2 separate regions of the Homo sapiens genome follow, and region 2 is linked to region 1. Evidence: fine-mapped expression QTL. A gene starts in region 1. The other region holds a variant in brackets. All regions are shown on one strand. Distances are from middle to middle. Region 1 holds the start of PRX (periaxin). Region 2 overlaps SERTAD3 (SERTA domain containing 3).

What was found.
Region 2: its variant is fine-mapped to the expression of PRX in naive CD8 T cells (Schmiedel 2018, PIP 0.95). The same link has a PIP of 0.9 or more in Th17 cells.

The regions. Positions count from the first base shown.
Region 1 is chr19:40,403,516-40,418,596 of GRCh38, reverse strand. It overlaps PRX (periaxin), which reads left to right and starts at 5,219. Exons shown (of 7, transcript NM_181882.3): 1 at 5,219-5,259; 2 at 10,214-10,257; 3 at 10,341-10,439; 4 at 10,566-10,691; 5 at 14,735-14,891. The coding sequence starts at 10,665. RefSeq lists enhancers at 3,761-4,409, 7,926-8,517, 8,430-8,599, 8,518-9,111, 10,338-10,467 and 1 more and silencers at 13,948-13,997, 14,908-15,077.
Region 2 is chr19:40,426,305-40,441,086 of GRCh38, reverse strand. SERTAD3 (SERTA domain containing 3) reads left to right here. Exons shown (of 2, transcript NM_203344.3): 2 at 1-243. Among named protein-coding and RNA genes, the nearest start is that of SERTAD1, 7.7 kb to the right of the region's middle. RefSeq lists a cis regulatory region at 5,521-5,785, a silencer at 6,864-7,153 and enhancers at 7,264-7,343, 7,019-7,847. The variant ATAGT/T (reference allele first, on the strand shown) is at 4,956.

The DNA of each region.
Region 1 (15,081 bases):
ACTGTTCCTGAAAGCCAGACTGCCTGGGTTTGAACCCCAGCTTTGGCCAGATGCGACGGCTCACGCCTGTAGTCCCAGCTACTCAGGAGGTTGAGGTGAGAAGATCACTTGAGGCCAGGAGTTTGAGGCTGCAATGAGCCATGATTGCACCACTGCACTCCAGCCTGGGTGACAGAACAAGACCCTGTCAGAAAGAAAGAAGGAAGGACGGAAGGAAGGAAGGCAGGAGGGAAGGAAGGAGGGAGGGAAGGAAGGGAGAGAGAGGAAGGAAGGAAGAAAGAAAGGAAAGAGAGAGAAGAAAAAAGGAAGGAAGGGAAAGAAAGAAAGGAAGAAAGAAAAGAAAGAAAGGAAGAAAGAAAGAAAAGAAAGGAAGAAAGAAAAGAAAAGAAAAGAAAAGAAAAGAAAAAAGAGTTACCGCTCTGTGGCTGTGTGACTCTAGGCAAGGTACTTAACTTCTCTGAGCCTCGGGGTCCTCACCTGTAAACTGGAACAGTAACAGTATCTGCCCCAAAGAACTATTGTTCTGGTGGGCAAGGAAACAGCAAGGGTCACTGAGAGAGAGACCCTACAACATTTTCAGGGATCTCTAAGCTGCTGGGTTTGGCTGGAAGGAGGAGGAAAGCAGTAAGGTAAATGACAAGACTGGAAGGGTCCGCAGGGGCCAGGGCATATAGGACCCTGGATGGGGGACTTAACTCTGAAGATGCTGGGGAGTCATGAAGTAAAAGGATCCCTTCACTAGGTGGGTGGCATCGTCGGGGAGGTGACACTGGAGGCCAGGAGCCCAGGATCCCAGGGGTGGAGAATCTGGGGAGGGACGGAGCAGCTGTTGGGAGGGAAGAGGCACTCAGGAGGCCCAGCAGACAGGCTGTGGGACTGACAAGGCCTGGAGGAGGGGTCTCAGACCAGGCTCAGGGCTCTAATCAGGGGACTGGGAGACACTGGGGCCATCCCTGAGATGGCAACTGGGGAGAGAAGCAAGTCTGGGGTTGGGGCTGAGGCCAAGGAGGGACCCAGGGGGTGCAAGAGGCTGGGGAGACACCCAGGGGAAGGCATGGAGCTGCCCGGGCCCTGGGCCGGGAGCTCAGGAGAGAGGACTGGGGTGTGGGGGTGGGCGTGAACGGTGGGATCGAGGGAGACACCAGTGTCCCTTGGCTGGACTGGGTGGGGCGGAGTGGCTAGGCCACGCAGGGCAGGCCAAGGCTCCTGCTTGGCTCAGACTGAGTCTGGAGAGGGTGGTCCCTGAGAAGAAGCGTCCACCTCCTTCCCTAGCCTCACAGGATGTCCTGTGTTTACTGCGGTGGCCACAGCCGGAACCAGGACACTGGGGCCACCCCCAACTTAGCTTCCCGTGGCCACACCCCCTTGGGTGAGGGAAAGCATGACAGAGAGAGAGGGAGAGAGAAACGCACAGACAGAATGAGACAGAAAGAAACTAGGAAAGAGAGACAAAGAATAAGGACAGAGAGAAACAGAAGAACAGAGAGACACAAAGATAGAGACACACAGAGAGACACACCATTCGTGATAAGAATTCACAACAGTCCAGGTGTGGTGACTCATGCCTGTAACCGCAACAGTTTGAGAGGCCAAGGCGGGTGGATTACCTGAGGTCAGGAGTTCAAGACCAGCCTGGCCAACATGGCGAAACCCCCATCTCTGCTAAAAATACAAAATTATTGCTTCTTGGCCTTTTGGCTAAGATCAAGTGTAAAATACAAAAATTAGCTGGGTGTGGTGGTAGGCGCCTGTAATCCCAGCTACTCGGGAGGCTGAGGCAGGAGAATCTCTTGAACCCAGGGGGCGAAGGTTGCAGTGAGCCGAGATTGTGCCACTTTGCTCCAGCCTGGGTGAAAGAGCGAAAACTCTGCCTAAAAAAAAAAAAACAAAAGAAAAATTAAAAAAAAGAAAGAAAATAACTCACAGCAGGCCAGGCACAGTGGCTCATGCCTGTAATGTCAGCACTTTGGGAGGCCAAGGCAGGAGGATCGCTTGAGGCCAGGAGTTTGAGGCCAGCCTGGGCAACATAGTGAGACCCGCATCTCTCAAAAACAAGAAAACAAAAAACTCACAGCAAACTAGGGAAAGAAGCTTCCTTAACCTGATAAAGCGTATCTACAAAACATGGACCGCTAACTTCCTACTTTATGGCAAAAGGTTAAATGCTTTCCCCTAAGACTGAGAACAAGCAAAGATCTCTGCTCTCTGCGACAAGGGAAGAGAGGGGATGTTGTGTACCAGCCTCCCTTTTCTGTTTGACCCTGAGCAGAGAGAGGGGGATTTTCTTCCCTATGCTAGCCTGGCTGATAGCTCAGCCTCTTTCTGCCTTCAGGTACCTAAAAGCTCAGTGCTATTCATACTTTGTCCCTCTGATAGCTCTTCAGGGCCCACAGGACAAAGTCTGAGGCCCTCCTCATGGCCCTGCTGACCCCTGGACCTCCTCTTACCTTTCCCTCACACTCTCACCTTAACCGTTTTCTCAAAGGGCCTTTGCACAGGGTGTTCCCGCTACCTGAAACACACTGTCATTCCTTCACCACCCATGGCTTTGGGTTAACTTCTATATATCCTCCAGGTGCAAGCTCAAATGCCACTTCCTCCAGGAAGCCCTCCTTGATTTCTCTTCCTAGGCTGGGGCAGCCACCTTTTCTGGACTTCCCCATCAAGGCTTTGACCTCTCTGCCTATGATTGCCCCATCACAACCCTCCTCTTTCTGGGTTTGTTCCCTGCTGGACTGTGAATGGTGTGGATGCAGGCCTGAGCTGTCCCAGTCACACTGTGTCCCCAGCACCATCCAGCCTGGGACTGGACAGAAGACCAGGTGCTCACTGAATGTTTGCTGATGGTGAATGAAGACCCGCTCCATTTCTCACCTCTGGTCCTTTGCCCACATTTGTCCCTCTGCCTGGAACCCCCTTCCCTCCTTTTTTCCTTAGCTCCCTCCTCCTCAATCTTCCATTTTGACTTCCTTTTATTATTTATTATTATTTTCTTTTTGAGACAGAGTCTCGCTCTGTCACCCAGGCTGGAGTGCAATGGCGCAATCTTGCCTCACTGTAACCTCTGCCTCCTGGGTTTAAGCAATTCTCCTGCTCAGCCTCCCGAGTAGCTGGGATCACAGGTGCCCGCCACCACGCCTGGCTAATTCAGTTTGACTGCCGATATCACCTCCTGCAGGATCCTTTCCTGAGTTTGCCGCCTCCTCCCTGGGGTGGAGTTAGATCTGTTGATGTCCCCTGTGCCCAGCAAAAGACCTACCACTAAACAGGGCTTGTGAGTGTTTGTTGAATGAATATAGGAACAAAAGAATGTTTGCGTGAATCAATGAAGGAGAGAGACTGCAATGAAGTGAGGGTCTCCTCAGGCCCATCGGGAGCCCCGACCATACCATCCCTTCTACCCCTCCTGGGAGGAGGGCTCTGGCTGGCTTCTGGCCACACCCCAATGCTTGGTTGCTGCCAGGCCTGGAAGGCATTTCCCAGAGCTCAGCACATTCCTGCCTTCCCCGGTGGCTGAGAGTGGGCAGGGGGCATTTCAGAGAGAAGGGAGGGAGGCCCCCAGCATTCCGGGATCCTGCCATCCTGGCCTGGTCCCCCACGCCCTCTGAAGTAGGCCCCAACCCTCTGGTGTGAGATGGGGGACAGGTCTGCAGAGGGGCCACCCAGGCTGGTGTGAGGGGCGAGGGTGCCGACAGAGGCCAGGGCTTGGTGTCTGTGCCTGGCTGGACAATGGGGCAGAAGCTGCTGACATGCGCTTTGGGGGTAATCCCCCAGCCTCAGCCCAGCCCAGGCCTGGGGCCTGGGTTCAGAGAGCGACGAGCTTCCGAGGCAGCAGCCGGGTGGGTTCAAGTGGCATGTGGGGGTACCTGTGCTCCCTGTGCCGCCCCCCGGGGTCTGGTGAGTCAGGGCAGGCTGGGGGCTGGACCAGGGTCCAGGGGTTGGGGGTGAGGCCTGGTAGCTTTGGCTTGGGAGTCGGGCAGGTCTGGGTTCAACTCTGGACCCCTGCCAATGACCTGCTATGGTGATATTGGGAGAGTCACTTACCTTCTCTGAGCCTTCTGGTCTGCAAAGTGGAAGGGGCAGAAGAGTGTAGCAGGGTTTTTGTGGTCCAGGAGAACAGGGGTTGGACCTCAGCTTCACCACCTCCTGGCCACATAGCTATAAATTGGGCATAGCTGGACGCGGTGGCTCACGCCTGTAATCCCAGAACTTTGGGAGGCCGAAGTGGGAAGATCGCTTGAGCCCAGGAGTTCGAGACCAGCCTGGGCAACATGGTGAAACTTTGCCATTACAAAAAATACAAAAATTAGCTGGGCATGATGATGCATACCTGTGGTCCCAGCTATTTGAGGGGGCTCAGTCGGGAGGATTGCTTGAGCCCAGGAGGTGGAGGCTGCAGTGAGCCATGATCACACCACTGCACTCCAGCCTGGGCAACAGAGTGAGACCTTGTCTCAAAAAAAAGGGTGGGGAGCATAAGGAGCCCATTTTACACCCTTGATTCAAAAGCAGGGCTTCAGCACTGAGCATGGTACTTAGTATGTGATAGGTGTCCCCCTAAACAGTAACTCCATTAGACAGAGAACTGGGGGTCCCCTGTGCCCAGCCTTACTGAAAAGGGGCCAAAACCCCCCAGCAAGATGAGCCAGCCACCTAATTTGTGTGAAAAATAATACCAAATACTTATTAGTAACCCTCATTATGTGCCCGGCATTGTCTTACATTTTCAGTCTCTTTTAACTCGTTTAATCTTCACCACAGCCCCATAAGGTGGGTACTCTTACTATCCGCAAAGAGAAGCTGTGACTGGCAGCAGGTCACCCAGCGAGGAAGTGGTCGCGCTGCGATTTGAACCCAAGTTGACAGGGAGAGGGAGTGAAAGGAGTTTACAGTAGAGGCAGTTGGCCAGGCCCGGGTCCTGGAGCCAGGAAACAGTGGGGCTGGGGTGGGGTCCTGATTCTCCAAGTCGAGGAAGCCAACGTGCAAATCCTTGAAGCTGAGCTCATGGCAGAGATCTCGGCCCAGGCAAGAGAGAGGCGGCTGGTGGCTGTCCCGTGGCCCCCACCCCTTGGGGATAGATGTAGCTGGAGGAGGGGGATGTTTGTTTCTCCACCACCCACCCTCTGGTGACGTCACACCCCCGCAGCCAATGGCTGGGGTCTCTCTCTCCTCCCCCCTCCCCATTCCTTTTCCCCCCCAGCCTAGGGCTAGGGCTGACAGACGGGACCAGGAGCTCTCGAGGTGTCTGGAGGCTCAGCGGTAAGAGATCAGCCGGCCGGTCCCTTCCCTGGCCAGGCTGAGACACTGTGGGAATGAGGTTCAGGGTCCCGGGAGGTGCTGGGAGGGGGCCTGGGGGCTCAGGAAGCCGTGTGGTGTAGGTGTTAAAGGTATAGACTTTGGAGCTGGTGGTTCAAATCCCCTTTCCTCTCCTTTCTGGCTGTGCAGCCTTGGGCAAGATACTTCATCCTTTGTGCCTCTGTTTCCCCATCTCTAAAATGGGCTGATGTCTGGAGGCCACCTCACAGGGCTGGTGCCGAGTAAATGAGTTGCTGCTTTTAAAGAGCTAGGGCAGCCAGGCATGGTGGCTCATGCCTATAATCCCAGCACTTTGGGAGGCTGAGGCGGCAGGACTGCTTAAGCCCAGGAGTTCGAGACCAGCCTGGGCCACATAGAGAGGCCCCCATCTCTACAAAACAAAAAAAAATTTTTTTTAATTAGCTGGGCATGGTGGTGCATGCCTGTGGTTCCAGCTACTCTGGAGGCTGAGATGGGAGATTGGGTTGGGCCCAGGAGGTTGGGGCTGCAGTGAGCCGTGATCACACCTCTGCACTCCAGTCTCAGTGACAGAGGGAGACCCTGTCTCCAAAAAACAAACTAACAAACACCAGAGCTGGGGCAGGAGGCCTGGGGTGGGTCCCTGGAGTAGGGTGCTAGGGAGGCAGCATGGATCCTGTTGGGAGGCTGGTGCCTGAGCTGGGTTTTGTCTCTCAGCCAAAGCTCCCCTTTGGTAGCAGAGAAAGTGGGGGCCACTGAGGAGCAAAGGTTGGATGTGCAACACTGTGAGAAGCACAGCTCCCTCCCTCCATACTCTCCCTGTTGCTGTCAGAGACGAGTTTATATTAATCAAGCATTTACTATACAGGAGGGATATTCTAAGCACCTGCTGTTCTCTCACAAATCTTCAAAGCCTTTCTTATTGGCTCCATTTTACAGATGGAGAAACTGAGGCCCCAGAGATGAAGGATCTTGCCCAAGTCCTCACACCTGGGAAGTGCTGGAGCAGGGACTAACCGAGGCAGCCAGAGGCCACTGCCTTAACTCCCCCTGACCCCCTAGGTGGCCTCAGATAATGTTTAGAGGTCTGGATGAGTCAGCCCAACCCCTGACCCCCATTGCTATGAGAGATCACGCTGGTGGCGGGGGAAAGCTGAGGCTCTGAGCAGGCAGGGTTCCCAAGTGAAGTTGGTGGCAGTCACCAGGGAAAGAGGGCCAGAAGGGCAATGCCCTCAGCCGATCCCTCAGCAGCCTCCGAATGACAACCCCTCGCTCCCAGCTGCTCTGAAGGGCATAAGTCGCATCTGAAATGGATATCTCAGTTGTACCCACTCCAGGGAGATGTTACAAAGATTTAAGGAGCCAAGACAGGAAGGATCTTAGCACACAGTAGGTGCTCAAGAAATGGGGACCCTGGGGATTCTGAAAGTTCTGGCATATGCCAGGGTCATGCCACAGTAACTACCCAAGAAATAGGCTGCTGGCATCTGGAGTGTCTGCCTGGTCCCAGTGGATCTGCCTCTAACACAAGGCAGGGACCCTCCCCAGGAGCCTCCCCACCCCTCTTTCCCCTGCCTAGTGGGATAGGCAGAGCTGGGAACACAGAGTCCTCTCTGTGGGTTTCCTTCCGAAGCTGCCCCCACCTTACCCCAGGGGCTGGGTACGTGGCTCAGGAAGAGCACAGTTGGGCTAAATATAACCTGGGCTGGGTGCCTGTCCAGGCAGGGACGAAGAAGGAGGGCACTCTCTCTTGTCCCTGCCCCGCCTGAACTTCCTGTGCCAGGCTCCGGGCATGACCCTCACAGCCACGGGCCTGGGACAGAGAGCTGATGACCCAGGAGACCCCCTCTACTACCACCTACAAGGTTCAGGCTTCTCGTGTCCCCAGCTCAGGACTCTGTGCTGTGTATCAGTCCTGGGTAAGGGAACTGAGTTCGCTTTCACACCTGGGCTCAAGTCTCGACTCTGTCACTGTGATCACCGGTCTCTTAACTCTCATTGACTCATCAGTTAAATGGGGTCCCACAAGGTCAAGTATGTAAAGCGCCTGCCCGGTCCAGGCCCGGCACCTGGCCTGGGTGTGTTTCTAGCACCGTTGGCCCCCTCCTGCCCAACCCAGCTCCTGCCCCAGTGCGCAGAGCCACCAATGCAAATTAAGGTGAAGCAGGGGTGAAGGGCAGGCACGGGTCCTAGCTCTGCCCCTTTCTGGCTGGGTGACCCCTCTGTGAGCCTCAGTTTCCACCCCATAACAGCCACAACATCTAGGGTGATTTTGAGGCCTGTGGGTGCTAGCACAGGGCCCAATTCAGAGGAAATGCCCCAGACATGGCAGACAAGGTCTTAGTGCAGGGACCAGCTAATATTAATACTAACCACTCAATACCCATCAGTTGTTATTATGATTGTCCAGCTAAAGCGCTGGAGCTTTTTTTATTTTTATTTTTATTTTTTTGAGATGGAGTCTCGCTCTATCGCACAGGCTGGAGTGCAGTGGTGCATTCTCAGCTCACCACAACCTCCGCTTCCCAGGCTGAAGCGATTCTCCTGCCTCAGCCTCCCGAGTAGCTGGGATTACAGGCGCGCGCTGCCACGCCTGGCTAATTTTAGTATTTTTAGTAGAAACGGGGTTTCACCATATTGGCCAGACTGGTCTCGAACCCCTGACCTCGTGATCCACCCACCTCGGCCTCCTAAAGTGTTGGGATTACAGGCCTAAGCCACGCGCCCAGCCCGTGCTGGAGTTTTTAGACAAGTTCAAGTCCTGGCACAGCCTGGAAGGTGTAGGGGGCTCACAGGGGATCCCAGGGAAGGCCACAGAGACCAGGACCCCCTAGGAGATGCAGAGAGAAGCCCTCTTACACTGTGGGGGGCGTGGGTGCTGTGGGAGTGTTAAGGGGTCCCCATGTCCTCTCTCCTGGCCACTGATGGGCTATGAAAGGCCATTGTGTGGCCAGGGTGGGTGGGCAGGGGCGGAATGCAACTGAGCACAGCAGACGGGCCATTGTGTGAGGGAATGTGCCGCGTGAGGCCTGACCTTTCCCTGTGCAATAGGGGTTGGCGGGTTGGCATGCCAGGTGGGGGCTGTGAGGACAAGCCCAGAGTCGGGGGTTGGGGGAGAGAGTATTCATCTCCATTTCCCCAGATGGGCCTGGCGGGTGGCTGCATGTGAATTTCAGCTTTGCCTCCTTCTGGCTGTGCTATGAGGCCTTGAGCAAGTTCTTTTGGCCTCTCAGGAAATGGGGTTTTCCGAGGTGAAGTAGAAGGTGAAGGTCTTAGCACGGGGGCCAGCAAATACTAATCACTCAGTACCCATCAGGTATTATTACTACCCAGATAAAGGGCTGGAGCCTTCAGACAAATTCAAGTCCTGGCTCGACCATTTGTGACCTGGGCTAGTGACATCCCTTCCCCCAGCCTCAGGTGTCTCCTCTGTAATGGGCTCAGTAGTAGCTGATTGCACAAGGCTGTGCTGAGGGCCATGTGCAGTGGAGCATGTGGGGCGCTCGACACAAGGTCAGGGCCATAGGAAGTTCTTAGTAATAATAATGGCCTGACAGGTGCAGTGGCTCATGCCTGTAATCCCAGCACTTTGGGAGGCTGAGGCAGGTGGATCACCTGAGGTCAGGAGTTCCAGACCAGCCTGCCAACATGGTGAAACCCCATCTCTACTAAAAATACAAAAAGTAGCCAGGCGTGGTGGTGGGCACCTGTAATCCCAGCTACTTGGGAGGCTGAGGCAGGAGAATCACTTGAACCCAGGAGGCAGAGGTTGTAGTAAGCCGAATTCGCACCACTTCACTCCAGCTTGGACAACAGAGCGAGACTCTGTCTCAAAATAATAATAATAATAATAATAATAATAATAATAATAGCAAGTATTTATAAAGCACCTGCCAGGTGCCTGGCACTTTACACTTATTAACTCATTTGAGCCTCGGAACAGCCCTGCGAGGTAAAAGCTCTTATTCTCCACATTTTATAGACAACATAACTGAAGCACAGAGAGGAGCTGTGATTTGCTCACTGGGAGTACATGGGAGTGGCTATAATTATTTTATAGCATCAAGAGGCTGAGGCAGGAGGATAGCATGAGCCCAGGAGTTGGAGCTCAGTTTGGGCAACCTAGGGAGACTCCATCTCTACAAATTAATTTAAAAAATTAACCTGGTGTTGCCAGGTGTGGAGGCTCATGCCTGTAATTCCAGCACTTTGGGAGGCCAAGGTGGGCTGATCACTTGCAGTCAGGAGTTCAAGACCAGCCTGGCCAGCATGGTGAAACTCCGTCTCTACTAAAAATACAAGAAATAGCCGGGTATGGCGGTGCGTACCTGTAGTCCCAAGGTGCGTGCCTGTAGTCCCAACTACTCGGGAGGCTGAGGCGGGAGAATCACTTGAACCCAGGAGTTGGAGGCTGCAGTGAGCCAAGATCGCGCCATTGCACTCCAGCCTAGGTGACAGAGCAAAACTCTCTCTCTCACACACACACACACACACACACACACACACCACCAACAACAACAAAAACGTAGCCGGGTGTTGTGGCATGCACCTGTGGTCCCAGCTACTCGGGAGGCCAAGGTGGGAGGATCGCCTGAGCCCAGAGACCGAGGCAGCAGTGTGCCGTGATTGCACCACTGCACTCCAGCCTGGGCAATAGAGCTAGACCCTGTCTCAAATAGCAATTATTTTTTAGTGAATTTGGCCCCCTCAGTTGGCCAAGATCTTTGGCACGGGGGCTCTGCTGCCAGACAGGCCTCGGAGTCAGTTTTGGCTTTACCGTGTGTTGTCCAGCTGAGTCATCCTGGGTAAAGGTCTTCTGAGGCTCAGTTTCCCACCTGCACGACGGGGATAGGGTATCAGCAGAACGCAGCAGGGTCAGGCACTCAGGAAGTCATCGGTGGCTGTTAGCCAATAACACTGCTCACATTATTCTTCTTAGAGCGCCGGACCCAGGAGGCCCAAGGAGCTGGAGGTGACCCTCAGGTGAGCGCAGGCTGGTGCCATATGCCCCTCCCCACCCCTTCCTCGCCTGCCTGGAGCTTCACATCCTGGCCTTTCCCTGGCAGGCAGCAAGAACCCCACGGAAGGGCGTGAGCCCTGCAGACAGCTGTGCGGCACCTCGGGCTGGGCTCCTGTTAGGAGGAAGTGCCTGCACCCAGGCAGCGGTGAGAGGACAGCTGGGGTGGGGGCCCTTCTCCCCTTCTAATACCCACCCTGCTTTCTCCCTGTAAGCATGGCCTCCACCTCTCGTCCCCTACTGGCCTCAAGCCTCCACTGCTGTCCTCCCACAGGCTCAGAGGCAGCTGCTCCATGCAGAACTGAAGCTGGTTCTGCAGCAGAAAGGGGAGAGGACACAGGAGCCTGGGGTGCAGGTGCCTCCCAGCAACGCCATGGAGGCCAGGAGCCGGAGTGCCGAGGTGAGTGCCCACGTGTCCTGCAAGGCGCACTTGAGGGCAATGGGGAGGCACAGACTAGGGCAGCAAGGAGACACTTTCTGGCCTCTCTGTGCCTCATTCTCTCCATCTGTGAAATGGAAATAATAACAGGGTCTATTTTATGGGTCACTGTGAGGAGAAGAAAATTAACATATGTAATGTCCTTAGTGCAGCATCTGGCACAGGCTAAGACTCAAGGCAGTGAAATCACTGGCGCACAAAGGAGCTAAATTAATAAGGAGCTGAAGAAAATCCGGCAGAAACCCTTCATCAGAAGAGGCAGCATATGCCAGGTGCAGTGGCGCAGGCCTGGAATTCCAGCACTTTGGGAGGCCGAGGCAGGAGGATCGCTAAAGCCTAGGAGTTTGAGACAAGCCTGGGCAACATAGGAAGACCCTGTCTCTACCGGAAAAAAAAATGAGCCGGGTTTGGTGGTGCATTCCTGTAGTCCCAGCTACTCAGGAGGCTGAGGTGGGAGGATCACCTGAACCCAGGAGGTTGAGGTTGCAGTGAGATATGATTGAACCACTGCACGCCAGCCTGGGTGAAAGAGCAAGATCCTGTCTCATTAAGTCTCCTGTGTGGAAAGAATAAATGAGAAAAACAAAGAAAAAAAAAAAAAGACCCTGTCTAAACACACACACACACACACACACACACACACACACACACACAAGGGCATATAATGTAGGAGTTAAGGACATGGGCTTGGACCCATGGCTCAAATCCCAACCCTACCACTTCAGCTGTGTGGCCCTGGGCAGATGATCTCACCTCTTTCAGCCTCAGTTTCCCACTGAAATGGAGGTAATGGGGCTGGGCGCAGTGGCTCACACCTATAATCCCAGCACTTCGGGAGGCCAAGGCGGGCGGATCACTTGAGGTTAGGAGTTCGGGACCAGCCTGGCCAATACGGTGAAACCCCATCTCTGCTAAAAATACAAAAATTAGCCGGGCATGATGGTGCACACCTGTAGTCCCAGCTACTCGGGAGGCTGAGGCAGAAGAATTGCTTGAACCCAGGAAGCGGAGGTGGCAGTGAGCCGAGATCACACCATTGCATGCCAGCCTGAGGGTCACAGTGAGACTCTGTCTCAAAAAAAAAAAAAAAAAAAAGAAATGGAGGTAATGATCTCCACCTCTGAGAACTCCCGCTTGAGCCATTTGCACAGAGTCTGGTGCTGAGGAAGCCTCTTTGAATGACAGCTGCTGTCACTGTTACTGAGATGGTGGATTGGCATTGACCATGTCTTACTGTATACCAGGCACAGAGCGGGTCTACTGTTACAGGGGCCAAGCTGCTACTGGGGGCGAGAGGCAGTGGGTACAGCGCCAGGAGTTCTCTGCCCACAGGATGGCCTATGAGTTCTGGGGTCACAGACCTAAGGTTGAGGCCCAGCCGCTTAACTTGCTACAGGGCATTAGGCAAGTCACTTTACCTCTCTGGGCCTTAGTGTCCTCCTCTGTGACTGCCCAAGGCTATAGGGAGAGGATGAAATGAGATCCTGCAGACTGCATTCGATGGCTCACACCTGTAATCCCAACACTCTGGGAGGCTGAGGCCAGAGGATCCCTTGAGCCCAGGAGCTGGAGACCAGCCTGGGCAAAACAAGACTCCGACTCTTTTTTTTTTTTTTTTTGAGACGGATTCTTGGTCTTGTCACCCAGGCTGGAGTGCAGTGGTGCGATCTCAGCTCACTGCAACCTCCGCCTCCCAGGTTCAAGCAATTCTCCTGCCTCAGTCTCCCGAGTAGCTGGGATTACAGGCGCCCACCACCACGCCTGGCTAATTTTAGGACTTTTAGTAGAGATGGAGTTTCGCCATGTTGGCCAGGCTGGTCTTGAACTCCTGACCTCAGGTGATCCTCCCGCCTTGGCCTCCCAAAGTGCTGGGATTATAGGTGTGAGCTACCGCGCCTGGCCTGACTCCGACTCTTAAAAAAAAAAAAGAGGCCGGGCGCGGTGGCTCATGCCTGTCATCTCAGCACTCTGGGAAGCTGAGGCGGGTGGATCATGAAGTCAAGAGATCGAGACCATCCTGGCCAACATGGTGAAACTCTATCTCTACTAAGAATACAAAAATTAGCTGGGCGTGGTGGCGTGCACCTGTAATCCCAGCTACTCGGGAGGCTGAGGCAGGAGAATCGCTTGACCCGGGAGGTGGAGGTTGCAGTGAGCCAAGATTGTGCCACTGCACTCCCAGCCTGGGTGACAGAGCGAGACTCCGCCTCAAAAAAAAAAAAAAAAAAAAAAAAAAAAAAGAGATTCTGCACATAAAATGCTGAGCCCAGGGCCTGCTGAGCCAAAGGGCGGTACTGGTGGTCATGCTGTTCCCTACAGTCCCAGCCACAACTCTCCTTACCCAGACTGCCCTGCTCAGCCCCCTAGTCCCTTGGGGCCACTGCTGTGGGGCATCTGGCCTAGACCTGCTCTCCCTCCAAGTCCTGGGCTCAATTCCAGTCCGTGCTGGCCCCAGTGCGTTGGCCATGACAGTGTCCTCTCAGATCCCTACTGCAACCTCCTTCCAGTATGCCTATGTTACCCTATTTTGCAGCAGGGAAGTGGGTCCAGAGAGGGCAAGATTCTTCCTAAGACACACAGCAGATTGGATTCCTAGACAGGATCCAGGTTTGTCACTGCCTCTTCTGGGAAGCCCTATTGTGAATCCCATAGTGGCTTCTGGGCCAGGTCCAATCTGCATCATTTACAGTAAATACCGGGAATGCCATGTCTCCCAGTCCCATTCATTACCCACGCAGACCCCCTTCACTGGATTCCCTCTCCTGTGGGCGTTTCACAGGTCTTCGGGTCATTGAATTTACAATAGAGCACATTCTCACACACATTCAAGCCTGCAGGGAGGCAAATCCCACTCCCTGTCCCCCCAATCCCAGAGGGCTTGAAGGTCCAGCCAGCCCCTTCCTCAGAATCCCATCCTCAACTATTCTCTTGTTCTGCTGTAATTAAAGCCCCTCCCCCATAGTTAAATTCAGTTTGTAGAATATGGGTCTCCGGGCCAGATGCAGTGGCTCATGCCTGTAATCCCAGTGCTTTGGGAGGCTGAGACAGGAGGATCTCTTGAGGCCAGGAGTTTGAGACCAGCCTGGGCAACACAGTGATACCCCTGTCTCTTAAAAAAAAAATTAAAAATTAGCTGGGCGTGGTGGCGCGTGCCTATGTTCCCAACTACTTGGGAGACCGGAGCGGAAGGTCTGCTTGAGTTTAAGGAGGTGGAGGCTGCAGTGAGCCATGATCACACCACTGCACTCAAGCCTGGGGACAGAGTGAGAGACCCTGTCTCCCCCAACAAAAAAATAATAAGGGTCTCCGCCCCAGCTCCAAATAACCTCCCATAAACTCTGGCCACATTCCTCTCCTATCTTTTGCACCCTTCTATACCCCATTTGGCTCTTCCTCTCAGGCCTGTGTTGTCTTACCCCTCCTACCCGCACCAACCCCCCCCAGCCCCGCCCTCCCGACCTGACCACGCCCCCACGATCCTGGTCCCGCCTCTCAATCACAACTCAAGTTATCTCCAGCCCACTCCGACGCAGTCCCTCCCCTTACAACCCCGTCTCCTCCCCTAACCCCTTTCGGCTGCCGCTCCAGGGCCTCGGAGAGGCCAGCCGGCCCGCGGAGCTGTTTAACCGTTCCGCGGGTCCTAGAAAGCCAGCTGCCCTCAGGCTTGCTTAAAGGGGAGACGCCGGAGTGGGTGTGCCCCGACGTCCTGCGAGGGCAGCGCCGAGGGGCGTGTGCCCTGAAGGCCCGCTGAACAGCCGCTTTTGGCCGGGCGCGGTGGCTCACGCCTGTAATCCCAGCACTTTGGGAGGCCGAGGCGGGAGGATCCCTTGGGCCCAGGAGGAGTTCGAGACCAGCCTGGGCAGTGTGGCGAGACCGTCCCCCACCCCCGTCTCTAAATATATATAAACATATATATGTATATGAGCCACTGTTGAGCGCAATGGCGGGCTCTGGGCGAGGTCCGGCCCTAGAGCCCCAACGCGACACCTCGCCGCCCTCTGCAGGAGCTGAGGCGGGCGGAGTTGGTGGAAATTATCGTGGAGACGGAGGCGCAGACCGGGGTCAGCGGCATCAACGTAGCGGGCGGCGGCAAAGAGGGAATCTTCGTTCGGGAGCTGCGCGAGGACTCACCCGCCGCCAGGAGCCTCAGCCTGCAGGAAGGTGGGCGGGCCCGGGGTGTGGGGCGGGGTCGAACTGCGGGGGCGGGGTTAGGAATCTGCCTTGGGTCCAAAGAGAGGCTGAAACTGACCGGGGGATGGGGGCGTGACCGGCGACCAGGAGGGGTTAAGGGCTTGGGGCGGGGCTTTGCTGACTGTTCACAGCAAATTCCGGAGGTTCACTGTCTGGGTGC
Region 2 (14,782 bases), 23 kb before region 1:
TCTTGCACCTTGAGGGGGTGGGAGGGGCTGGTGTCCTCCCTCCAGGCTGAACCCCACTTCCTCGGCAGGACCCCAGTCTCAGCAGCCTCCTGATTTCATAACCAGGCCGGACCACGTGCAATAGGGTGGAAACCAAACTGCTCCATGCCGGGTTATTTAAAAGAAAGGCAGAGTTTGTGGTGGCTTTTTTTTTTTTTTTTGGATTGTTTGTAATTTTTTTAAATAAAAGTATTTTGGAAGGAGGGATGTTGTCTAATGTTTCTAAACTTCACTGGGTCAGTGGGAGGGACCTGGTAAGTTCCTAAACATCAGCACCACTTCCGTGCCATAGCTGGGGTAGGTGTATCATTGTACATGACATTTATTGAGTGCTTGTTGGCTGAGTGCTCTAGCTCCCACTTGGAATCCTAGCACTTTGGGAGGATCTGCTTGAGGCCAGCCTGGGAAATGTGGCGAAACACTGCCTCTACAAAAAATACAAAAAGGAGCTAGGCATGGCGGCCTGTAGTCCCAGTTACTGGGGAGGCTGAGTTGGGAGGATCACCTGAGCCTGGGAGGTTGAGGCTGCAGTAAGCCATGGTCACACCACTGCACTCCAGCCTCAGAAAAAAATTAGTGCTTGTTAAGAGCACTGTTCTAGCCACTTTATTTGAATTAAGTCTGTTAATCCTCATATAGAAGTAAGTACTGTTACCACTTTTTATACAGGAGGAACCAGAAGTTTAGAGAGGACAAGTCACTTAATTCAGAGCCACACAGCTAGGAAGAACAAGGACCAGGGAGCTAGGCTGAAATGGCCTCCAGAGCCTTGTCCTTCACTATTATAAATGTTGCTTCTTAGACTAACCAGCCACGTGGGTGGGCACAGGAGGGAGAAACTGAGTCACACGGAGTATGTGTCACTGAATGTGCTGCTGAGCCCAGAGGGGCAAGAAAATGCCCAAAGACCCCCAGTACTAAAAGACCTCTTTAGGAGAGTTGGCTAGGAAGCAGAGCCCAGATTAGATTTATAGTGCTAATGCTTTTTTTTTTTTTTTTTTTTTGAGACGGAGTCTCACTCTGTCACCCAGGCTGGAGTGCAATGACAGGATTTTGGCTCACTGCAACCTCCACTCCCGGGTTCAGGCAATTCTCCTGCCTCAGCCTCCCGAATAGCAGTGACTACAGGTGCTTGCCACCACGCCCAGCTAATTTTTGTATTTTTTTTAAAATAGAGACAGTTTCACCATGTTGGCCAGGCTTGTCTCCAACTCCTAACCTCAAGTGACCCGCCTGCCTCAGCCTCCCAAAGTGCTGGGATTACAGGCATGAGCCACTGTGCCTGACCTGTGCTGATGCTTTATTTCGGAGGTACGAGCCCAGGCTGCTGAGATACAGGAGAGGAGAAGGAGGTGAAGGAAGTGAAGGAAGAGGTAATGTGATACCTGTACAGGCTATGCCTTTACAATGGTCTTTGAAGAGATGAAGCAAGTGAGCTACACAGCATTAGGGACTTTTCTGGAAGGGCTGCGAGGAGGAACAACACCTGAGTATAGTCCATGGGTGGAGAAAGGATGGGGATTTTGCTTGTGGTTTCTGGGTCAAAGCCAGATTTCTCAACCTGAAGGGGTCATTGTCAGAAAGTGGAGGGATAACCTGAAGAGGTGGGTGCCAATCCAGAGAGAGGAATGAGGTGGCCCAGAGGATCTAAAGAAAGCAACCAGGTACAGGCCAGGCGCGGTGGCTCAGGCCTGTAATTCCAGTACTTAGGGAGGCCAAGGCGGGAGGATTGCCTGAAGTGAGGAGTTTGAGACCAGCCTGGCCAACATGGCGAAGCCCTGTCTCTACTAAAAATACAAAAAATTAGCTGGGCATGGTGGCAAACACCTGTGGTCCCAGCTACTCAGGAGGCTGAGGCAGGAGAATCACTTGAATCCAGGAGGCACAGGTTGCAGTGAGCTGAGATCATACCACTGCACTCCAGCCTGAGTGACAGAGCGAGATTCCATCTCAAAAAAAAAAAAAAAAAAGCAACCAGGTGTGATACTTGCTGTGGAATTGTAAAAAATAAAAATAAAAGGTAAGCAACCAGGTCTGCATCCCAATATGATGGCAATTGAATCATGTCTTCCTCCTTGAAACCTTCAGTGCCTTTTTTTTTTTTTTTTTCTTTTGAGACAGGGTCTCTGGCTCTGTCGCCCAGGCTGGAGTGCAGTGGTACAATCACAGCTTACTGCAACCTCCACCTCATGGACTCAAGCAATTCTCCCACCTCAGCCTCAGCCTCCCAAGTAGCTGGGACTACAGGCACGTGGACCACACCTGACTAATTTTTGTATTTTTTGTAGAGATGGGGTTGTGCCATGTAGCCCAGGCTGGTCTTGAACTCCTGGAATCAAGCGATCCTCACATCTCAGCCTCCCAAAGTGCTGGGATTACAGGCATGAGCCACCACGCCCAGCCTCCAGTGACTTCTTGACACACTCAATAAAGCGCCAGCTCCACCAAGACCTGCAAGGACTGACTTATTCTCACTTCGGACAACTTTCTCAGTTCCATCTCCCACTCTCTCCATCACTCAACTGGGCTCCCTTGACCCCAGCTCCTTCTCACCCCAGGGCCTTTGCCCTAACTGTTAAATTTTCCCAGTGGACATTTTCCCCAATAGCTTCACCAATCCCAATATCCCCTTCTCAGGGAGGTCTTCCTTGCCCTTCCTAGCTCAACACATCCAGGTGGGTCACCACCCCACCACAACTTGTTTGATTTTCTTTCTTTCTTTTTTTTTGAGATGGAGTCTTGCTCTGTCTCCTAGAATGGAGTGTAGTGGCATGATCTTGGCTCACTGCAGCCTCTACCTCCCAGTTCCAGCAATTCTTCTACCTTAGCCTTCCGAGTAGCTGGGATTACAGGCACATGCCACCACACCTGGCTAATTTTTTTTTTTTTTTTTTGACACGGAGTTTTACTCTTGTTGCCCAGGCTGGAGTGCAATGACGCGATCTTGGCTCACCACAACCTCCGCCTCCTGGGTTCAAGTGATTCTCCTGCCTCAGCCTCTCGAACAGCTGGGATTACAGGCATGCGCCACCACACCCAGCTGATTTTGTATTTTCAGTAGAGACAACGTTTCTCCATATTGGTCAGGCTGGTCTTGAACTCCTGACCTCAGGTGATCCGCCCGCCTCGGCCTCCCAAAGTGCTGGGATTACAGGCATGAGCCACTGCACCTGGACTGATTTTGTTTTAGTAGCATCTACCCAATCTCGAGTTACTTATTTCCCATCTATAGGTAGCCTCCTACTCTCCTGGGAACTCTGAGGGTTGTGTTGGTCTGTGCCTAGAACTATGCTTGGCACAACTGCACTCTCCAAAATTATTTGTTGTTGAAGGGTCAGGCACGGTAGCTCACGCCTATAATCCCAGCACTTTGGGAGGCCAAGGCGGTCGGATCACCTGAGGCTAGGAGTTCGAAACCAGCCTGACCACCATGGAAAAACCCTGTCTCTACTAAAAATACAAAATTAGCCAGGCGTAGTGGCACATGGCTATAATCCCAGCTACTCAGGAGGCTGAGGCAGGAGAATCACTTGAACCCAGGAGGCGGAGGTTGTGGTGAGCTGAGATCGTGCCATTGCACTCCAGCCTGGGCAACAAGAGCGAAACTCCATCTCAAAAAAAAAAAAAATTATTTGTTGTTGAAAAACTTGGCCAGGTGCAGTGGTTCACGCCTGTAATCCCAGCATTTTGGGAGGCTGAGGCAGGAAGATCGCTTGTGTCCAGTTCAAGACCAGCCTGGGCAACACAGGGAGACCCCATCTCTACAAAAAACTAAAATAAAATTAGCTGGGCTGATGGCATGCCCTTGTAGTCCCACCTACTCAGGAGGCTGAGGTGGGAGGATCGCTCGAGCTCAGGAAATGGAGGCTGTGAGCAGAGATAACACCACTGCACTCCAGCACTCCATCTGGAACAGAGCAACAGAGGGAGGTCCTGTCTCAAAAAAAAAAAAAAAAAAAAAAAAAGGCCGGGTGCGGTGGCTCACACCTGTAATTCCAGCACTTTGGGAGGCCGAGGCGGGCAGATCACGAGGTCAGGAGATTGAGACCATCCTGGCTAACACGGTGAAACCCCGTCTCTACTAAAAATACAAAAAAATTAGCCGGGCGAGGTGGCGGGCACCTGTAGTCCCAGCTACTCGGGAGGCTGAGGCAGGAGAATGGCGTGAACCTGGGAGGCGGAGCTTGCAGTGAGCCGAGATTGCACCACTGCACTCCAGCCTGGGTGACAGAGCAAGACTCCGTCTCAAAAAAAAAAAAAAAAAAATGAACTCCAGACCTAGCAATGACTAACTTTCCCTCCCACCTTTCTGAACTCATCTCCCCTACACACCCTCACTCTTATACTCCCACCACACCATTCCCTGCTGTTCCTCATATACACCATATTCCAAACTGAAGGATCTGGAGTAATACCTGCCTCACACTGCAAAGTGTCAGGGAGCCTGAGGCAGGCCAAGGATTCCAATAATGGCTCAGATTTATTGAGTGCCTGCTGTGGACCTGGCACTCTTCAGCAGGAAAATAAATAAAATAGACAATTCCTGCTCTCATGAAATTTAACAGTGGGGGAAGAGTGAAATACACATGAAAAATAATGCCAGGCATGGCAGCACGTGACTATGAGCCCAGTAACTCAGGAGGCTGAGGCAGGAGGATTATTGGAGGCCAAGAATTCAAGACCACTTTGGGCAACATAGCAAGACCACATCTCTAAAACAATTTTAAAAAAAAATTAGCTGGGCACGCTAGTCCCAGCTATTCAGAAGACTCGGGTGGGAGGATCCCTTCTTCAGCCCAGGAGTTGGAGGTTACAGTGAGCTGTGATCACAGCACTGCACTCCAGCCTAAGCGACAGAGTGAGACTCCCACTCCAAATAGATAGATAGATAGATAGATAGATAGATAGATAGATAG[ATAGT/T]TAGTTAGATAGGGCCGGGCGCTGTGGCTCACACCTGCAATCCCAGCACTTTGGGAGGCCAAGGCGAGTGGACCACCTGAGGTCAGGAGTTCAAGAGCAGACTGGCCAACACAGTGAAACCCCCTCTCTACCAAAAATACAAAAAAATTAGCTGGGCATGGTGGCCGGCGCCTGTAATCCCAGCTACTCCAGAGGCTGAGGCAGGAGAATCGCTTGAACCTGAGAGGTGAAGGTTGCAGTGAACTGAGATCAGGCCACTGCACTCCAGCCTGGGCAACCAGAGTAAAATTATGTCTCAAAAATAATTAAGTAAATAAAAAGAAAAATAAGGCCGGGTGTGGGGGCTCACGCCTGTAATCCCAACACTTTGGGAGGCCAAGGTGGGTGGATAATTTGAGGTCAGGAGTTCGAGACCAGCCTGGCCAACATGGTAAAACCCCATCTCTACTAAAAATACAAAAATTAGCTGGGTATTGTGATGCACACTTGTAGTCCCAGCTACTCAGGAGGCTGAGGCAGGAGAATCACTTGAACCCGGGAGGCGGAGGTTGCAGTGAGCCGAGATCACACCACTGCACTCCAGCCTGGGTGACAGAGCAAGACTCTGTCTCAAAAAAAAAAAAAAAAAAAGAAGTGAAAATGTGTAAGTCAGCCAGGTGGTGATAAATGCTGTGGGGGCAGGGGGGAGCAGAGGAGTGAGGAGGGTGTTGCAATTTACATAGGATGGCCAGATAGGGCGTCTGAGACAAGGTGACATTTGGGTAAAAACCTGAAGAAGGGCCAGGCACGTTGGCTCACCCCTGTAATCCCAGCACTTTGGGAGGCCAAGGCAGTCAGATTGCTTGAGCCCAGGAGCTTGAGACCAGCCTGGGGTAACATGGCAAGGCCCTGAGGTCCTGTCTCTACTCAAAAAAAAAACCAAAAAAACAAAAAAAACAAAAAAACTGGGTGTGGTGGTGCTCACCTGTAGTCCCAGCTACTAGTGAGGCTGAGGTAGAAGGATCGCTTGAGCCCATAATGGGCAGAGGTTGCAGTGAGAGGAAATCCCACTGCTGCACTCCAGCCTGGGCTACAGAGCAAGACCCTGTTTCAAAAACAAAAACAGGTAGGGCGCCCTGGCTCACTCCTACAATCCCAGCACTTTGGGAGGCTGAGGCAGGCGGATTACTTGAGGTCAGGAATTCAATACCAGCCTCGCCAACATAGTGAAACCCCATTTCTACTAAAAATACAAAAATTATCTGGGCAAGGTGGCAGCTGCCTGTAATCCCAGCTACTCCGGAGGCTGAGGCAGGATAATTGCTTGAACCGGAGAGGTGGAGATTGCAGTGAGCTGAGATGGGGCCACTGCACTCCAGCCTGGGCGACAAGAGCGAAACTCCGTCTCAAAAACAAACAGGCCAGGCGCGGTGGATCATGCCTGTAATCCCAGCACTTTGGGAGGCCGAGGCAGGCGGATCACGAGGTTAGGAGTTCGAGACCAGCCTGGCCAACATGGTGAAACCCCGTCTCTACTGAAAATTAGCCGGGTGTGGTGGCGGGCGCCTGTAATCCCAGCTACTCGGGAGGCTGAGGCAGGAGAATTGCTTGAACCCGGGAGGCGAAGGTTGCAGTGAGCCGAGATGGCGCCACTGCACTCCAGCCTGGGCGACAGAGCAAGACTTCGTCTGGAAACAAACAAACAAACTTTTTGTTTAAAAAGTGAGCCACCGTGCCCCGCCCTCCCCCTTTCCCTGCAGCTCTCTGCCTGCCCTGAAGATAACCCTGGGAAGGGGAATCGCACAGTTCCTTAGCACCGCGATGAGGCCAGTAAGAGGAGCACCCTCTTTCCAGATGAAAAAACTGAGGCTCCGAGAGGCCCAGCGCCTTCCTTAACACCGCACTTGTTAAAAAGAACTGGCCACAGAAGTGGAAAGGCTGGCCCTGCAGAAGGAACCGAGTCCCCGAGGGCAGTGTCCACGTTCCCCAACCTGCCCTCCTCCGCGGCGGGGGATGGGCCCGCGGCCCGCCCTGGGCGTGGCGGGAAGGCCCAGTCCCTCCCCGCTGCCCACCCTCCGCCCTGGGCCGGCCGGGGTACCCGGGAGGCGGCCGCGGCCGGGAGCCGGCCTGGCGCCTCCTCCCTCCCCAGAGGCCGGACGGGGCGGGCCGCGCCTCCCGACCCCCCTCCCTGCCTCCCTCCCCAGCAGGCGGAGGCTTCTCTCCAGGCCTGCCGGGCCCGGTGGCTTCGCCGATGGTTTCATTTCCCCAGGCCCGGCCTCTCCTCTTCTCCCTTCCCCCAGCCTTTGAATTCCTGGCTCCGTCTCCATTTTCTGGCCCCAGCTCCAATGTCAACGCCTCGAAGAATCTCTCTCTAGGACCACCCTGGTTACAGGCGATTATCCCGTCTTATTTTGTTTTCTTCAAGTCACTGAACGGAAACGGAAATTATTTTTCTCATCGATTCATCTTCCAGGGTCTTCTCATCCCGCTCGGAGTAAAAAACAAAGGTCCACAGAGTAGGCTAAAAGGCCTCACTTCTCGGACCTCCTTCCCGGCAGCTCCCAGTCCAGCTGCCCTGGCCTTGTCTCCTGACAGGCAGCACTTCAGAGCCTTTGCACTGGCTCTCGCCTCTGCCTGGAATGCTCTTCCTCTAGTTTTCCTACCTCTCTCATTTGTTTTGGTTTGTTTGTTTTTTGAGACAGAGTCGTTCTCTGTCGCCCAGGCTGGAGTACAGTGGGGCGATCATAGCTCACTGCAGCTTCAAACTCCAGGTTCAAGTGATTCTCCTACCTCAGCCTTCCAAGTACCTGGAACTACAGGCACGCCCGGCTAATTTTTTTGTTTGTTTTTGTTTTTGTTTTTTGAGATGGCAGTGGCACCGTCTCGGCTCACCGCAACCTCCGTCTCCCGGGTTCAAGCAATTCTCCTGTCTCAGCCTCCCGAGTAGCTGGGACTACAGGCGCCTGCCATCACGCCGGGCTACTTTCAAAACAAAACAAAACAAAAAAACCACACAAATTATCTAGTACCTTAGGAGCAGGTAATTGCAAAGGAAAAGAAAAAAGCAGACCGGGTGCAGTGGCTCATGCCTGTGATCCCAACACTTTGAGAGGCCCAGGCGGGTGGATCACTTGAGGTCAGGAGTTCGAGACTAGTCTGGCCAACATGATGAAACCCTCGTCTCTATTAAAAAAAAAAAAAATTAGCCGGGCATGGTGGCAGGCGCCTGTAATCCCAGCTACTCGGGAGGCTGAGGTAGGAGAATTGCTTGAATTCAGGAGATTGGAGGTTGCAGTGAGCTGAGAGATGTGCAGCTTTGGGGAGGAGGATGTGTTATGTCTGAAGAGGTGACAATTCAGCAGAGACCTGATGAAACAAAAGAAGTAGACCCGGCGGCCAGGTGGCTCACTCCTGTAATCCCAGCACTTTGGGAATCGGAGGCATGAGGATCACTCGAGCCCAGGAGTTCAAGACCAGCTTGGGCAACATGGGGATACTCTGCTTCTACAAATAAAAAATTAAAAAAAAACTGGCCAGACGTGGTGGCTCATGCCTGTAATCCCAGCACTTTGGGAGGCCGAGGCGGGCGGATCACCTGAGGTCAGGAGTTCGAGACCAGCCTGATCAACATGGCGAAACCCCATCTCTACTAAAAATGCAAATTAAATTGATTTAATTTGCTGTCTTTTTTTCAATTTTTGTTGTTGTTGTTGTTTAGATTGTTTTCTTTTCTTTTTTCGGACAGAGTCTTGCTCTGTCACCCAGGCTGGAGCGCAGTGGCACGATCTCGGCTCACTGCAATCTCTGCCTCCCGGGTTCAAACAATTCTCTTGCCTCAACCTCCCAAGTAGCTGGGAGTACAGGTACTTGCCACCACACCCGGCTAACTTTTGTATCTTTAGTAGAGATGGGGTTTCACCATGTTGGTCAGGCTGGTCTCGAACTTCTGACCTCAAGTGATCGGCCTGCCTCGACCTCCCAAAGTGCTGGGATTACAGGCGTGAGCCACGGCGCCCGGCCAAGGTAATTTGTTTATTGTTCATCTGCTCCCATAAGAGATTTTCATCTATAATTTCACTGCCCTTTCTTCAGTGCCTATAACAGTGTCTGGCACACAAAAGGGGCTCAAGACATAAATGTTTGCAAATCAATGAATGCATTCGTTTTCATATATATTTTCTCTCTTCACCTCCTACCCTGTTCCATGAGAGGGGAGACTCTGTGAAATTTACCCAGTGCTGTATCCTCACCATCTACAACAGTGGCCACCACATAGTAGGTGCTTAATAAATATATATTAATCAGATGATTCCTCTGAGCTCTTGTTCTTGTTTTTTGTTTTTTGTTTTTTGTTTTTTTTTTTTTTACAGAGTCTTGCTCTGTCGCCCAGGATGGAGTACAGCGCAGCAGCAGCCTGATCCTGGCTCACTGCAACCTCTGTCTCCCAGGTTCAAGCGATCCTCCCACCTCAGCCTCTGAAGCAGCTGAAACTACAAGCATGAAGGAAAATTTCCTTTTCCTTCAGTGTATGACCTGGAGTAAGCCACTGGGAGACTCCAGGTCCAGGCGTCCCTTTTGCCAGCCATAAAAATGGATTCTGGAGGGCAGAAAATGTGAATTTGCCTAGTGGGGGCCTGGTTCTAATTAGCATCTTACCTTAATTTTATTATTAAAAATTCAAGCACATAGAAAAGATGGGGAAAAAAAGTATTCTGAGCATCTGAATACTATCTCACCTAGATTTATTTGATAGTTGTTGGACAGGGAACAACTATAATCCCAGTACTTTGTGAGGCCAAGGCAAGAGGGTCACTTGAGTCCAGGAGTTCAAGATCAGCCTGGGCAACATGGTAAGATCTCATCACTACAAAAAAATTTAAGAGCCAGGCGTGGACCGGGCATGGTGGCTTATGCCTGTAATCCCAGCACTTTGGGAGGCCGAGGCAGGCGGATCACCTGAGGTCAGAAGTTCAAGACCAGCCTGACCAACAGGGAGAAACCCCGTCTCTACTAAAAATACAAAATTGGTCAGGCGTGGTGGTGCATGCCTGTAATCGCAGCTACTCGGGAGGCTGAGGCAGGACAATTTCTTGAACCCAGGAGACAGAGGCTGTGGTGAGCCAAAACTGTGCCATTGCACTCCAGCCTGGGCAACAAGAGCGAAACTCCGTCTCAAAAAAAAAAAAAAAAATACTCGTCCCATAAACTGGCAATGAGACTTAACCTTCTTCAAGTAGCTCATTTGTTAATTCCTGAGCTGTGGGAAGAGCTTTTAGTTTTGAATAAAGCTCCTGGCCAAAGTAAGTTCTCAAAAATGCTAACTATGGTAGTTAATTCAGGCAGCAATTGTCAATGAATGCTCAAACAGTTGGGTGAAAAGTTAGTGGAAAACAGGATCTTTTGGGGTCTCACTCTTTCACCCAGGCTGGCGTGCACTAGTGCAATCATGGCTCACTGCAGCCTCAAACTCCTGGGCTCAAGTGATCCACCTCAACCTCCCAAGAAGCTGGGACTGCAGGTGCATGCCACCATGCTAGGATAAGTTTTTAAAAACAGTATTCTGTAGATAGTGCCACTGCACTCTAGCCTGGCGACAGAGCGAGACTCCGTCTCAAAAACAAACAAAACATAAACAAAAACCAGTATTTTGTGGAGATTGGGTCTTGCTGTGTTGCCCAGGCTAGTCTCAAACTCCTGGGCTCTGGCCAGGCACAGTGGCTCATGCCTGTAATCCCAGCACTTTGGGAGGGCGAGGTGGGTGGAGTTCGATACCAGCCTGACCAACATGTTGAAACCCCGTCTCTACTGAAAATACAAAAATTAGCCAGGCATGGTGGTGCACGCCTATAATCCCAGCTACCCAGGAGGCTGAGGCAGGAGAATAGTTCAACGCGGGAGGCGGAGGTTGCAGTGAGCTGAGATTGTGCTACTGCACTCCAGCCTGGGTGACAGAGACTCCATCCCCCCCCCCAAAAAAAAAAAGCCAGATGTGGTGGCTCACGCCTGTAATCCCAGCACTTTGGGAGGCCAAGGTGGCTCATGCCTGTAATCCCAGCACTTTGGGAGGCCAAAGTGGGCAGATCACCTGAGGTCAGGAGTTTGAGGCCAGCCTGGCTAACATGGTGAAACCCTGTCTCTACTAAACATACAAAAATTAGCCAGGCATAGTGGCATGCACCTGTATCCTAGCTACTCAGGAGGCTGAGGCAGGAGAATCCTTGAACCCGGGAGGCGGAAGTTGAAGTGAGCCAAGACCACGCCATTACACACCAGCCTGGGCGACAGAGCAAGACTCCATCTCAAAAAAAAAAAAAAAAAAAAAAAAAACTGGCCAAGTGCGGTGGCTCACGCCTGTAATCCCAGCACTTTGGGAGGCAAAGGCGGGCGGATCACGAGGTCAGGAGATTGAGACCATCCTGGCTAACATGGTGAAACCCCGTCTCTACTAAAAATACAAAAAAAAAAAAAAGGAAAAAAAATTAGCCGGGCGAGGTGGCGGGCACCTGTAGTCCCAGCTATTCAGGAGGCTGAGGCAGGAGAATGGCATGAACCCAGGAGGCGGAGCTTGCAGTGAGCCGAGATCGTGCCACTGCACTCCAGCCTGGGCGACAAAGTGAGACTCCGTCTCAAAAAAAAAAAAAAAAAAATCACAAAACCTCCTGGGCTTAAGTTCCCGCCTTGGCCTCCCAAAGTGCCAGCATTACAGGCATGAGCCACCACATACATCTTGGAGATAGGATCTTCACAGGCTCTAAAGCATCATCCCAAAGGTTATTTGCTAACTAGAAAGGATAAATTTATTTTACGATGTAACCCTCACAATCTTAATCACGTGATGAAACTCTGCATTACCAATGGTGGGACATCCTGACACTGGTGCCAACTACTATAATGCGTTAGGATTAGGAAGTACATTAATAAGGATTAGGACACACCCTGTGGAGTCTCCCTGTTCACTGCATAAGCAGAATCTCACCAGGCCCCTAGACCCAACCTCCAGCTTATTGGAAAAAGAGAGGAACAAATTAAACACAGTCAGACAAATCCAGAATGTGGGACACTATGCAGCATGACTAGTCTGTTTTGCCAGAAATTCAATGTCAACAAAACATCAAAAAGGATTTGAGGCTGAGTGTGGTGGCTCATGCCTGTAATCCCAGCACTTTGGGAGGCCAAAGCGGGTGGATCACCTGAGGTCAGGAGTTTGAGACCAGCCTGGCCAACATGGCGAAACCCTGTCTCTACTAAAAACACAAGAAAATTAGCCAGGCGTGGTGGCGCACGCCAATAATCCCAGCTACTCGGGAGGCTGAGGCAGGAGAATCACTTTAACCCGGAAATGGAGGTTGCAGTGAGCCAAGATCATGCCACTGCACTCCAGCCTGGGCGACAGAGCAAGACTCTGTCTCAAAAAAAAAAAAAAAAAAAAAAGGGATTTGGGTGGGGGAATATTCGAGAATAAAATATAGTATGTAATTTCTTCATTACAACCAAATTAGCATGTGAACCTTCATTGGATCCTGATTTTGGAGAAAAGAAAGCAACTATAAAGGATATTCTTGGGTCAGTTGGAGAGATTTGATTAGGTGATATTGTGGAATTCTTGATTCTATTAGATGTGAAATAGTATTTTTGTGGCTTGTACATGAATGTCCTTATTCTTTTTTTTTTTTAGGTGGAGTTTGCTCTTGTTGCCCAGGCTGGAGTGCAATGACGCAATCTCAGCTCACTGCAACCTCCACCTCCTGGGTTCAAGCAATTCTCCTGTCTCAGCCTCCTGAGTAGCTGGGATTACAGGCACATGCCACCATGCCCGGCTAATTTTTGTATTATTAGTAGAGACGGGGTTTCATCATATTGGTTAGCCTGGTCTCGAACTCCTGACCTCCGGTGATCCACTCGCCTTAGCCTCCCAAAGTGCTGGGATTACAGGTGTGAGCCAACGCACAGGGCCTAATGTCCTTATTCTTAAGAGATGCCTCCTGAGCTGTTAAGGGTAGAATATCAAGATGCTTGCAATTACTCTCCAAAGGTTTAGCAAAAGAAACAATATATACACATATGTAGATAAAGGGAACTTAGCACAATGTTACCAACTACTACTTTTTTCTTTTTTTTTTTTTTTGATACAGGGTCTTGTTCTGTTACTCAGACTAGAGTGCAGCGGCATGAACATGGCTCACTGCAGCCTTGACCTCCTGGGCTCAAGGAATCCTCCCACCTTAGCCCCACAAGCAGCTGGGACCACAAGAACATGCTACCACGCCTGGCTAATCCTTTTTTTTTTTTTTTTTTGAGACAGAGTCTTGCTCTGTTGCCCAGTCTGGAGTGCAGTGGCGCTGTCTTGGATCACTGCAACCTCTGCCTCCTGGGTTCAAGCTATTCTCCTGCCTCAGCCTCCTGAGTAGCTGGGATTACAGGCGCCTGCCACCACACCTGGCTGATTTTTTGTATTTTTAGTAGAGACAGGGTTTTACCATGTTGGCCAGGCTGGTCTCGAACTCCTGACCTCGTGATCTGCCCACCTCGGCCTCCCAAAATGCTGAGATTACAGGCGTGAGCCACCACGCCCGGCCCACGCCTGGCTAATTCTTAAATTTTTTTGTAGTGATGAGATCTCACTGTGTTGCCCAGGCTGGACTCAAGTGAACTCCTGGACTCAAGTGACCCTCCTGCCTTGGCCTCCCAAAGTACTGGATTACAGTTGTTGCCTAGCTAACAACTATCAATTAAATCTAGGTGAGAGAGTATTCAGGCGTGAGCCACTGCATCCGGCCATGGGAGGAGTATTATACCCTGTCTACCTCTAGCCCCATCCTGCATGTCTATCCACCTTGAACTAAGAGCTTGTCTTATTACAACAGCTATTACTACTAACAAAGAAACAACGTTGCTAACCAGGCATGGTGGTGTGCGCCTGTAGTCCCAGCTGCTTGGGGGTCTGAGGCAGGAGGATGGCTTGAACCTGGGAGGCTGCAGTGAGCCGAGATGGCACCCCTGCACTTCAGCCTGGGTGACAGAGCGAGACCCTGTCTCAAAAGCAAAATAAAATAAAATAAAAAGTAAAGAAAAAAATAATAAGCAGCTGGGCGCGGTAGCTCACGCCTGTAATCCCAACACTCAGGGGCCGAGGAGGGCGGATCACCTGAGGTGAGGAGTTTGAGACCTGCCTGGCTAACATGGTGAAACCCCATCTCTACTAAAAATACAAAAATTAACCGGGCGTGGTGGCGCACGCCTGTAGTCCCAGCTACTCGGGAGGCTGAGGCAGGATAATTGCTTGAACCTGGGAGGCGGAGGTTACAGTGAACCGAGATCGTGCCCCTGCACTCCAGCCTGGGCGACGGAGTGAGAATCTGTCTCAAATAAATAAATAAATAAATAAATAAAATGAAAAAAAAAAAAAAAACACAAAACATGTTGCACCCCACTCTGAAGATTTTTCATGAATTAATTTAATCCTTAAAAACAATCCTGTAAACTAGGCGCTATTTTCTCTCATTTTAAAGGAGAAACAGACCAGAAGGGATTAAAACACTTGCCGCAGGTCACACAGCTGCTTAGGGAATGGAGCCCGGGATGTGATTCCGTTGGTATCGCACTCCCACCTCACTCCCGCCTTTAACCACAATTAAGTCCAACTGTCCAGCATTGCTTGAGTGTGGTATTGTGTTCTTATAGATACGATCCTACTTAAAGTATCCTGTCAAGAGGTAGGCAAGACGATCCCCATTTAACTTTGTGTAGCTTGAAGAGGTTGATCATTTTTCCAAGGTCACGCATCCAGTGAGTGGGGAATCCGGAGTCGGAATTTGAACCCGGGCATTATCTGTAGTGTAGACCC